Linked DNA regions of Homo sapiens. The protein of the gene in region 1 purifies or fractionates together with the protein of each later gene. This does not show direct contact. Each region holds a gene or a part of one and is shown on either strand. Other genes may lie near its edges.

Region 1 (5,521 bases):
CCCTACATCTATTTTATTTGTCATTTCAGAAAACACATGGTATTATCTCATGCTGCGTAACAAGTTAGTCCAAAACTTAGCAGCTTAAAACGAGAATAGTCACTTATCCTCTCTCAATTTCTGTGGGACAGAAAGTCAGACAGGGCACAGCAGGGCTGGTTGTTCTCTGCTCCATGTCTGGGACCTCAACTCTAAGACTTAAAGGCCGAGGGCTGGCAAGACCTGAAGTCTCGGTTTGCCATGATCTGGTGATTGACTCTGGCTGTTGGCTGAGAGCCCAGCAGCAGCTGTCAGCGAGAACACCCTCATGTGGCCTCACCATGTGGCTTGGGCTTCTTCACAACATGGTAGCTGGTTTCTTCTGAGGAACCAAGAAGAAGCTGTCTCCTTTTTATGGCCTGGTCTTAAGAGTCATACAGCTTCACTTTCATCACACTTTATTCATTAGACACCAGTCACCAAGTACATCCCACATTCAGGGGGAAAGGAATTAGATCCCATCTTTTGAAAAGAATGGTCAAGAGCTTGCAAGCCAATTTTAAAACCAGCACCACTTGGCTAACACAAGAAGCAATGTATAGAGTGAAAAACAAGTGTCTGAAGAAGTAAGACTTCTGTTCACATTCTAGCTCTGCCACTTACTAGCTGTGTGAGTTTGGGGAAATTACCCTCTGAGACTTGGTTTATACAATACAGGGTGATAGTTGTTGATCCCTAGTGATTTTTCTACGCTTGGAGTCTTCTTGCCTTAGTGAGTTTAAGAAGATCCAGGCTGAACTAACTTTCTTGGAGTCTTGCAATCCTTCCCATCACTGATAACCCTTGGTTTCTGACCCTGGAGGTAGTAAGAGGTTGCTACGGGAGCACAGGGTACCCAGAAAGTTCAGATACTAGGGACAGCTTTAGAGAACAGATGTGAAACCACTGAGGCCCTGGGGTCTCTCTAAGGCCTTTAACCCAGCCCTTGTGTAGTAACCTCAGCTTGTCAAGAAATGCAACGACCCCACAACTAAGGAATCTGAATCTGCCGGCTAAGGCCAAGGAATCTGCATTCTCCCACAAGACTGTGATTCATGCTAACTACAGGCAGGGGAGAGGGGGAGCATCTTAAAGCACACACTCGGCCGTCTCTTCCTAAAGTTCTTGGCTTCAGCCTAGAGATAGTGCCTTTCCCACCATTTACAACTCTATGGCATGAGGGAGGCGGAGGGTGCGTCCAGTGTCCAACCACGCACCACAGCTGGTTGTACTTTCACCTTCCTCTAGGCCAGCGGACCCTCCCCAAGCATTGCCTCCCACGCCCACGTCGCGGTCCCACCCTGGTCCGCGGGGTCCAGAGCGTCCAAAGCCCGGTCTAGGCAGATGGTCTAGGGGTGAGCTCTGCGCACCCCATTCCCACCAGTGCAGGCAATCGAATAAAACAGGGTGACTTTTAACCCTTTTCGTTTCCAGAGATAGTGACCCCCCGTCTCAATCCCTAGATGTCCTCCTCTAAGAACTGTGCGCGCTGGGAGGGACTCTGCGCTCACTCACTGTGACCACCTCGGCTGGGATATGGGGAAACTGAGGCCTACAGAGGGAAGGGAACTGCTGAACGTCCCAAAGCAACACAGGCACTGAATCCGGTCTAGAATCCCAGTCTTCCAGGCCAGTGCTCTCGGTCCTACCGGCTCAGGGCCCCTGCGAAGAATCTTTTTCAAGAAATTCCCGACCGCAGGAATTCCTTCTGCGCTAGGAATCTCCATGGAGTTTGCGCTCCCTCTGGCACGTTGAAAACGTCCTCCGCAGCTTCGCACCGGCTTCGCGGCGCCCTGACAGCTGGGTGAGGAGGGAGCGAATGCCCACCGGCGTCCTTGGGGTAACTTGGGACAGAGGCACCGCCGCGGGGGGCGGAGGACTGGGCGCGAAGGCGCTGGCCCTTTAAGGGGGGGACGGAGCGCATGCGCGGCGCGGGCCGTAGTCGAGCCTGGTGGGCGGCTGGCTGGCAGGGGACGTGGTCGGCGGCAGCGGGGCCCAGGGGCGGCGGGGCTGCAGCAGCGGCGGCCCCAGCTTCGCCGAGCAGCGATCGGCTGGTGGGCTTCTCGTTGGCGGGCTCCGCGTTGGCGGGCTGCTCCCCAGGCACCAGCGCAGCGCGCGCTCGCCCGGCTTCGTCACTCGCCTCCAGCTACATCCGCCGGCCGAGGCTGCGCGAGCCTCCGGGCTTGCGGTCCCCGCCCCGCGGTCCTTCCTCCACCCTCAGCCAGGGCAGCTGCAGCCCGAGCGAACAGCCACGGAGCATCCTCCGCCCGCCCGGGCCGCGCCACCGCCCATGCTGCAGCCAGTCCCAGGCAGCGACCCCGCGGCCGCAGCCCGCCGCTCAGTGACCTCAGCCTGGCCCCTGCGCGCCGCCCGAGCCGGTCCCGCTGAGCCGCGGGCCCCGTGCCCTGCGATGGCTCGGCTGGTGCAGCGCGGCGCCAGGTGCCAGCCGTCCTCCCGCTGAGACGCGCCCGAGTGGGGACCCGCTGGGCCTCGGGGCTCGCAGCCTTCGCCTCCCCGCCGCGCCCGCTCCCTTTCTGGGGACTCCGCCGCTGTTTCTGGGGACGAGGGGACAGGGGACCCAGACAAAGCCCACTTTGTGCAGGGAGTTGGCCGCAGGCGGGGAATGTGCGCGTCGGCGCGCGCCCCCTCCCCGCTCCCGGCCAGCTGCGAGTCTTGGCTCCCGGACTTGTCTCGTCGCGTCGGAGAAATCGCCCCCCAGCGCCGCTCTCCCGCCCGGGGGTCTTGGTTCCGAGCTCGCGCGGCCGGGAGTCGCCTCGGTCTTCCTTGGGGCGCGCGCAGATGTGAGCGTGCGAGAGTTGTGTAGGGGATTTTGTTCCCTCCGAAACTGAGACCCAGGGCGCCCAGTGGGCACCCGTGCCTTGACTCTGTCCTTTCTGCAGCCGCTGGTCCGAGCTGTCTGGCCTCAGTTTCCCTCCGACTTTTCTCCGCTCTGCCAGCCCTCACTGCTGCCCGTCATTGTTCTCGCAGTTAGATGGGGGTGCTTTGTGACGGCTGCCAAGTTGGGGTGTGTTCTCTTTATTCCGTTTTTCAAACAGAACAAGGCCTCCAAGGCTGACCCCAGACAACCCACCCCCTCGGACCCTAATTCACCTTATTGCACTGATTTTTTTTATCAAGTCGTATTTTATTGTACAGGAGCCACGCCCTGATTTCTTAAAGGCGCCTTGCACTCTGGCCATGTGTTATCTCTGCAGCCGGTGTGTGGGAGGCCTCTTGTGAGCCAGTTGTTTTCCCGCCTCCACCACCCCCCTCGAAGATTTAGGGATGCCAGGGGGGAAGAAGGTGGCTGGGGGTGGCAGCAGCGGTGCCACTCCAACGTCCGCTGCGGCCACCGCCCCCTCTGGGGTCAGGCGTTTGGAGACCAGCGAAGGAACCTCAGCCCAGAGAGATGAGGAGCCAGAAGAGGAAGGGGAAGAGGACCTGCGAGACGGAGGCGTCCCCTTCTTTGTCAACCGGGGTGGGCTACCTGTGGATGAGGCCACCTGGGAAAGGATGTGGAAACACGTGGCCAAGATCCACCCCGATGGAGAGAAGGTGGCGCAACGGATCCGTGGGGCCACAGACCTGCCCAAGGTGAGACACACGGGTCAGGGGGGTGATAGCACAGTCTAGGTTTTAGTGACCTTGGGGCCAAGAGTGAAGCCACACTCTCCTCCCACGGGGCAGGGGACCACTGGCTCGGTAAGATCTTTAAAATGCAGTGATATCATACCTGTCTAGGAGAACTTTCTCTCACTGCCATTCTAGGAGGGAGGCTCACATACATTGTCTCCAGGAGGCCCTCCCCGCTGTCTTTTAAAATGTCCACGTTTTACAGGAGGGGACAGCAGCAGATGGAACTAACAAACACAGTAGGATGGCTTGACGTCTCATTTGCTTGATGACACTTGCCAAGCCAGAGAACTGTGAGCAGACAAATGTAATGAATGACTAAGGAGATGCAGGGCTTCATATGTTGAGAAAATATTTTCGTGCATTATGTCATTGAATTCTCCCAACAGCCTTGTGACGTAAGTACAGTTTGGATTCCCATTTTACAGATGAGAAAGCTGAAAACTCAAGTAGGAACTCAAGATCCCACAGCCAGTAAGTGGCAGAACTGAGATTCAATTTCAGGTCTTCAGGAGAAGGGCGGGGGGTGGTGGTGGAGGGAAGTGTCCAGGTCCTCTTCTCTGTTGGACAGTAGATTCAAGCACATTAGAAGAGGTCTTATGGAGAAGCATAAAATGAAATAATTTTTCTGTGTTGGCTGTAACTCCTCCTCCATGACAGCTATACTTCAGTTGTGTCACCAACGAAAACAGAGGCTGTATCTCATTCATCTTTGTCTTCCCAAGGCCTCCTGTGTGCCTGGCACAGAACAGGCACTAGTGTGTGTGTTTGCTGAATGAAAGGGTATTTGAGAGTTTCTGTGCTGTACGCTGCTATATGGAAATACATGCCAGATATTAAAAAAAAAAAAAACATGATCAAGACTAGGAGGCACTTTGCCAAATGCAGAGGCCTGAAATCTCCAAAAAAGAGCCCTTTGGACTGAGTTCAGAGCCCAGTGCTTAGCCCTGCCTGCCCAGGTTGGAAGGAAGGGGGCTAGGAAGAATGGAAGTTAGTGTGAATTAGACATGAGGACAAGTGGCCCGTTTTGTTTTTACCAAGTTATTGGTACAGCCATCAGAAAGTGTCTTCTGGGAAAAAGAGAATCAAAGGTTGAAGGTTTAAATACTGCCTAATGTTTCCAGGGGAAACAAAATGTAGATTGATTTGGAATGGCCGCATAAATGTGCTCTGCACTGACTTAATATTTATTTAGCTAATCCCCTAGAGTTGGATGTTGTTTCCAGTTTTATTCCTAAAATGAATACTATGGTGAACATTCTAAAATATAAATTTTGGGGTTCATCTCTGATTATTTCCTTGGGAAAAATTCTGAAAGCGAAAGTATTGCGTCAAAGGATATTGACATTGGTAGGGGTCACCTGCTTATCTATATGGCCTCTTCCACCTATTTGAGATGCAGTTTTCTTATCAATAAGATGAGGTTGATTGTGGGGAAGAAATGAGAGACTGTGTGTTAAAGTATTTAACAAACTGTAAAGCCCCAAACCAGTACCTGGTTATTGGATATCAGTTACCTTTTTTTTTTTTTTTTGAGATGGAGTCTCACTCTTTCCACCAGGCTGGAGTGCAGTGGCATGATCTTGGCTCACTGCAGCCTCCACCTCCCTGGTTCAAGTGATTCTCCTGCCTCAGCCTCCTGAGTATCTGGGATTGTAGGCACCTACCACCACACCTGGCTAATTTTTGTATTTTTGGTAGAGATGGGGTTTCATTTTCAACATTTTGGCCAGGCTGGTCTCAAACTCCAGACCTCAGGTAATCCACCCACCTCAGCCTCCCAAAGTGCTGGGATTACAGGCGTGAACCACCACGCCCGGCCAGACATCCATCACCTTTACTTATGTGCTTTATCAAGCGGCAAGACTGG
Region 2 (4,819 bases), on another chromosome or scaffold:
TTGTTTAAACAGATGTGTGTGAGTGAGAGAGTCAGACAGACACCAGGATGAGAATTAACCTGTACTTGGTATAAGAGGAAGGTGGCACCTTTAATCTGATGATGCATAGCAAGAGAACTTGCCAGCAAAGAAAAAAGAAACTTAGAATATGTTCTGGCTGCGTAGATGTAATAATAATTACTGTCTTTTGCATGATCTGATGATCATTATCATTTGCAGCCCCCAGATTATAATGAATCACATTAAATTATAACAAAATAAGGCTGGGCGTGGTGGCTTACGCCTGTAATCCCAGCACTTTGGGAGACCAAGGTGGCAAGGTGGGTAGATCACTTGAGGTCAGGAGTTCGAGACCAGCCTGGCCAACGTGGCAAAATCCTGTCTCTACTAAGAAGTACAAACATTAGCCAGGCATGGTGGCGCATGCCTATAATCCCAGCTACTTGGGAACCTGAGGCAGGAGAATCGCTTGAACCCGGGAGGCGGAGGTTTCAGTGAGCCGAGATGGCACCACTGCACTCCACCCTGGGCAACAGAGCAAAACTCCATCCCAAAATAAATATATATATATATATATATATATATATATATATATATATATATATATATATATATAACAAAATAACCTTATTGTCCTTTTGTTCCTTATTCTATCCCTAAAATCAGTCTATGACTATCTTTATAGATGTTGCCCCGACATTGCAAACTTTGCAGACTGGCCGGGGCCAGGCCCAAGGGTGGTAACATTTGTATCCCATCCAGGCTGCAGATTTCCCCTGTCCTCCCCACCCAAGTCGTCCATTGTTGCCGAATGCATCGGCCATTGAATGTGTAGGGCTGTCTGGTTTCAGTGTGGTTAACTTTGGGAAATTATTGGACAGAACCACTGGGGAAGGTGACAGAAGGCTAGGTAGAACAGCAGAATTCATAAACATTCAGGGTGGACTACCGGGAAAGCTGATGGGCATTTTCTCTGCGTCTGCCATTCTTTTCCATTTCTCACCACAGGGAAGAGAAGCCGAGGGAGCTCTGGTGGAGGTTGCCAGGGAGAAGTACCAGACACGCCCTGAAATGGACAGCTTTTGTTAGGGTGGAAAGACAGGCTGCCAGGAAATGGGGCTCCAAGCAGGGCCTGGGGACTGGAAGCCCCTGGGAACTTGGAATGCCAGTCCAGTCTTTGTTTCCTAGAACAAGGGAAGGAAAAGATGAAGACTCACAACTCTTAAGGACTCCTAGGATGTTCTTTACCATATCTTGGGGCTTGAGATTTCAAAATTGTTTTCATTATTTTCATAACTTTTGCCCTAAACAAAGTAAGATCTTTTTAAAAAATATTGACTGATATACATAATTTAGCATTTTAATAAAGTGATTTATTTTTTGTAGAAAAACTTATTTATTCTGATCTCTTGGTAACAAGGCCAGAGGGAGCCCAGGTGACCAGATCACATGCTCTGGGCCAGCCATCACCTGTCCCAAGGGGCTGACATACCTAAGGGACAGGCCCAAGTCCTGAGGAGGCAGATGTTACCTCACCCCTGAGGGCAGAATAGAGCTTTCAAAGCAAAGGTTACTTCCAGGAAATGCATAAAAAGAATGGCAGCCTGTGTCCTTCCTCACATGAGTTCACTCACGTGGCATTTATTGAACATCCACTATGCCGGAGGCTCCACACAGGGCACTTTTTATCTTCCCAGCCACCCTGTGACGGATGTGGGATCATCCCTGTTTTGTGGGTCAGGAGGCAGAGGCTCAGAGAGAGCTGGCCCTGCCCAAGGACTCACTGTGAGTGTGGCAGAATTAGAATTCAGACCCAGGTCACTGTGAGAAACACAGTGGACTATCAGACCTCTTGCCTCAAAGGCAGCTTCTGGCCTAGGACTGGAGCGGAGGAGACAGAAGAACACTGAGGTCTTCTGGACACGAGGTCTGCTGTGCATGACTCGTGGGGAGTGTTTGTGCCAAGCTCTTTGCTAAAGAGGAACCTGCGGGGCCCTGAGCAGGGAGGAGGGAAGCAGGGTCTCCGTGTGGGAGCTGCTGGAGCTGGTCTTGCACAGCAGGCACCCTGTTCTTCCATTTGTGGTGCTTTGAAGGGAGTTGATAGAGCCTATGGGGGCAGCTAAATCCCTCCCAAGTCAGCCCTCAGCCCACTGCCATGGTTCTAGCTGAGAACTAATTACTAACCAGGGAAGAACCAATTAAACTAAATGGCTGGTTCCCACCTACTCTGGGGTAACCCTTTCCTGGCCACATCCTCCCTTCTGGCTTGGAGATACCAGGGCCCTGAAGACCCTGATTCTATTCCCGGTCTGTCACTGGCTGGCTGTATGTTGGATAAGCCCCAGCCCATCTCTGGCTTTCTCCGTGTATCCCCTCAAGGCTACTGGGCTGGGTGACCCCTTGGGCCAGTGGAGCTCTAACTCTGGTTCTGCAATTCAGTGCCAGCTCTGAGTATGAGGCCAAGCCAATAACACTCCCAGCCTGGAGACAAGCATGCTGCTGGTGAGAGGGGCTGCAGGAGTGAGATGGGGGATCAGGGGCTCTGCGACTGTTGCCCCCAGAACTGTCCTGGGTCCCACATGCAGGATCTTCTCCAGCCTACCACCTCCTCTCCTGGGAGGCATTCCTGGCCCCCTACACCTGAGTGCAACCCTCCCTGGGGGCACAATGTGGGGGAGGGGCATGCTGGCTCCCTTCTTCTGAAGATGTGCTTGGCTCTGGTTGCCAAGCAACAAGGATGGGGCTATCCTGCACTTCTGCTTCCAGGAGGTGTGTCTTCCACACAGAGAGGAACCATGATTAGGACGACAGGGCAGGTGACACCTCCCAGGTGCTCCTAGCCCAGGGGCACCCCTTTCCACAGCCTGGTGGGAGGGGTAAGCTGGGAGGGCAGGGAAAGGACAGAGCCAAGAGGGGTATATGGTGTCCCCAGCAGACCTAGGAGGGCTTAGAGACCCGGCCCCAGCCCCAGCTCCCACCCCCACCCCATCACCATATTGGTCCTCCTGCATCCTGGGCTTCCACCTCAGCCCACCCCTCTGCTGAATGGATGGTGTTGGTGTGCAATGGCACCACCTGTGCTCATTTTCCTCACCTGTGCAGGAAGTTGATCATTACCTTGTTGGGGTTCCAGGAAGATCAAGTACATCTATACATGGCATGTGATTAAGGCTCACATGATAAAAGCTCAGGTGATAGGTAATTTTGTTAATGAAATAGTAACAGCAATCTCCATCTCCTCCCTCATTGCAGAAGTAGGGTGCGAGATTTTGAGAATCATTGATCATTTCTGTATTGTGAACTGTGGGGTCTACATCCTCGTGATCTGGCAGGAAGAGCTGCTCATCCCATTTTATAAAGAAAGCGAAGGTCTGCCAGGTGAAGGCTTTTACACAGATGGAAGGACCCTTTGACTCCCTGGCCAGTGTTTTCCCCAGCTCCCCATCCCTGCTCAGAGACAGGCTGGCAAAAAGTGGGACAGACTCACCATGCCTGCTCCTCTGGGGCCACCAAACCTGCTCAGGGGAAGAGTACCTCATCTTCACAGCTCCGTTACTTCCTGTAAGGAGCTCAGCCAGGGTGGAGTATAAGGGCAGAGGCTTTGCAGCATTGGGGTTATATGCCTTCAGATGTGTGAGGTCGGTAGTACTTGGCCCACAATAAGCAGGCAACAAATCTCAGCCAGTATTAAGATTAGTATTACATACACAAGCAAGGCTATGGGCGTGATGTGCTTGGAGGAGTCAGGGAAGGCTTTCTGGAGGAGGTTTTGCATAGTGAGCAGGAACTCACCAGCAAAGAAGGGGAGGCACTGAGGGCAGAGGGCCTGACCATGCCCAGGCAGTGAAAGGCTTGGGGTTTCTGGGGAATCGGGTGTGGTTCAGGGTGGTGGGATTCTGGTGCGGGTGGAGAAATAGTGGGGGAGAAGGGGTTGAGCCTGGGGGAGTCAGTAGGGTCAGGCCCTGGAGGACCTCCCTGCAGGCAGTGGGGATCCACTGGGGAGTTTTGACCCAGAGGGACATGCTCATGGATTAGAAGGTGAAGGCAGAATGTGTTCTGATTGGAGGCAGGAGATCCAGGTGGCTGAACTAGGTCAGAACAGAAACGTTCCGAGGATGGAATTTATAGAGAGGGCTTGTAAACTTAAGCTTCCTTCCAGTTCTGAAGCTCAGCTCCACTGCAGATGTATATTTTCTTGATTCTTTCTCTTAGAATGAGGCCTCAGGAACAATGAAGGATTGTAGGGGAGGGACTATTGTCTCTCTCTGCAAGGCCACACTGTACGCAGATGGACCAAAGCTAGCCCCTTTAAGCTCCCCTGTCCATCCTATCTCCACAGTGCCCTGGGTTCCCTGACTGCTCTGGCCTTCCATGGGTGTTCTGCGGGACTGCTGGCAGCCCTTCCGGACTCCTCCCTCTCTGCTACCTGCTCAGGTTGGATGTGGCATATGACCAGAAACTGGCCATTGGGTGTGTGAGCTCCCCTATCCTCTGGTCATTGGATGTGTGAGTCCCCCATCCTCTGGTCATTGGGTGTGTAAGTCCTCTGTCCTCTGGTCACTGGGTATGTGAGTTCCCGTCCTCTGATCATTAGTGTGTGAGCAGCCCATCCTCTGGCCATTGGATGTGTGAGTCCCCCGTCCTCTGGTCATTGGGTGTGTGAGTCCCCCGTCCTCTGGTCATTAGGTGTGTGAGTCCCCTATACTCTGGTCATTGGGTATGTGAGCCCTCCCTCCTCTGGTCATTGGGTGTGTGAGTTCCCGTCCTCTAATCATTAGTGTGCGAGCAGCCCATCCTCTGGCTGTTGGATGTGTGAGCC

What was found. Proteins that work in one complex are often made in the same cells at the same time.
Region 2: the proteins of VASH1 (region 1) and RAB6B purify together in Homo sapiens (affinity purification with mass spectrometry; one large-scale study listed by BioGRID and IntAct). This does not show direct contact.

Annotation. Positions count from the first base shown.
Region 1 is NC_000014.9:76,759,519-76,765,039, forward strand, and holds the start of VASH1 (tubulinyl-Tyr carboxypeptidase 1), read left to right. Parts: upstream 1-1,949; 5' UTR 1,950-3,303; coding exon 3,304-3,612; intron 3,613-4,040; exon of another isoform or gene 4,041-4,125; intron 4,126-5,521. UniProt on the Homo sapiens protein: Tyrosine carboxypeptidase that removes the C-terminal tyrosine residue of alpha-tubulin, thereby regulating microtubule dynamics and function.
Region 2 is NC_000003.12:133,885,186-133,890,004, reverse strand, and holds part of RAB6B (ras-related protein Rab-6B), read left to right. Parts: intron 1-4,339; exon of another isoform or gene 4,340-4,439; coding exon of another isoform or gene 4,440-4,470; intron 4,471-4,819. UniProt on the Homo sapiens protein: The small GTPases Rab are key regulators of intracellular membrane trafficking, from the formation of transport vesicles to their fusion with membranes. Rabs cycle between active GTP-bound and inactive GDP-bound states.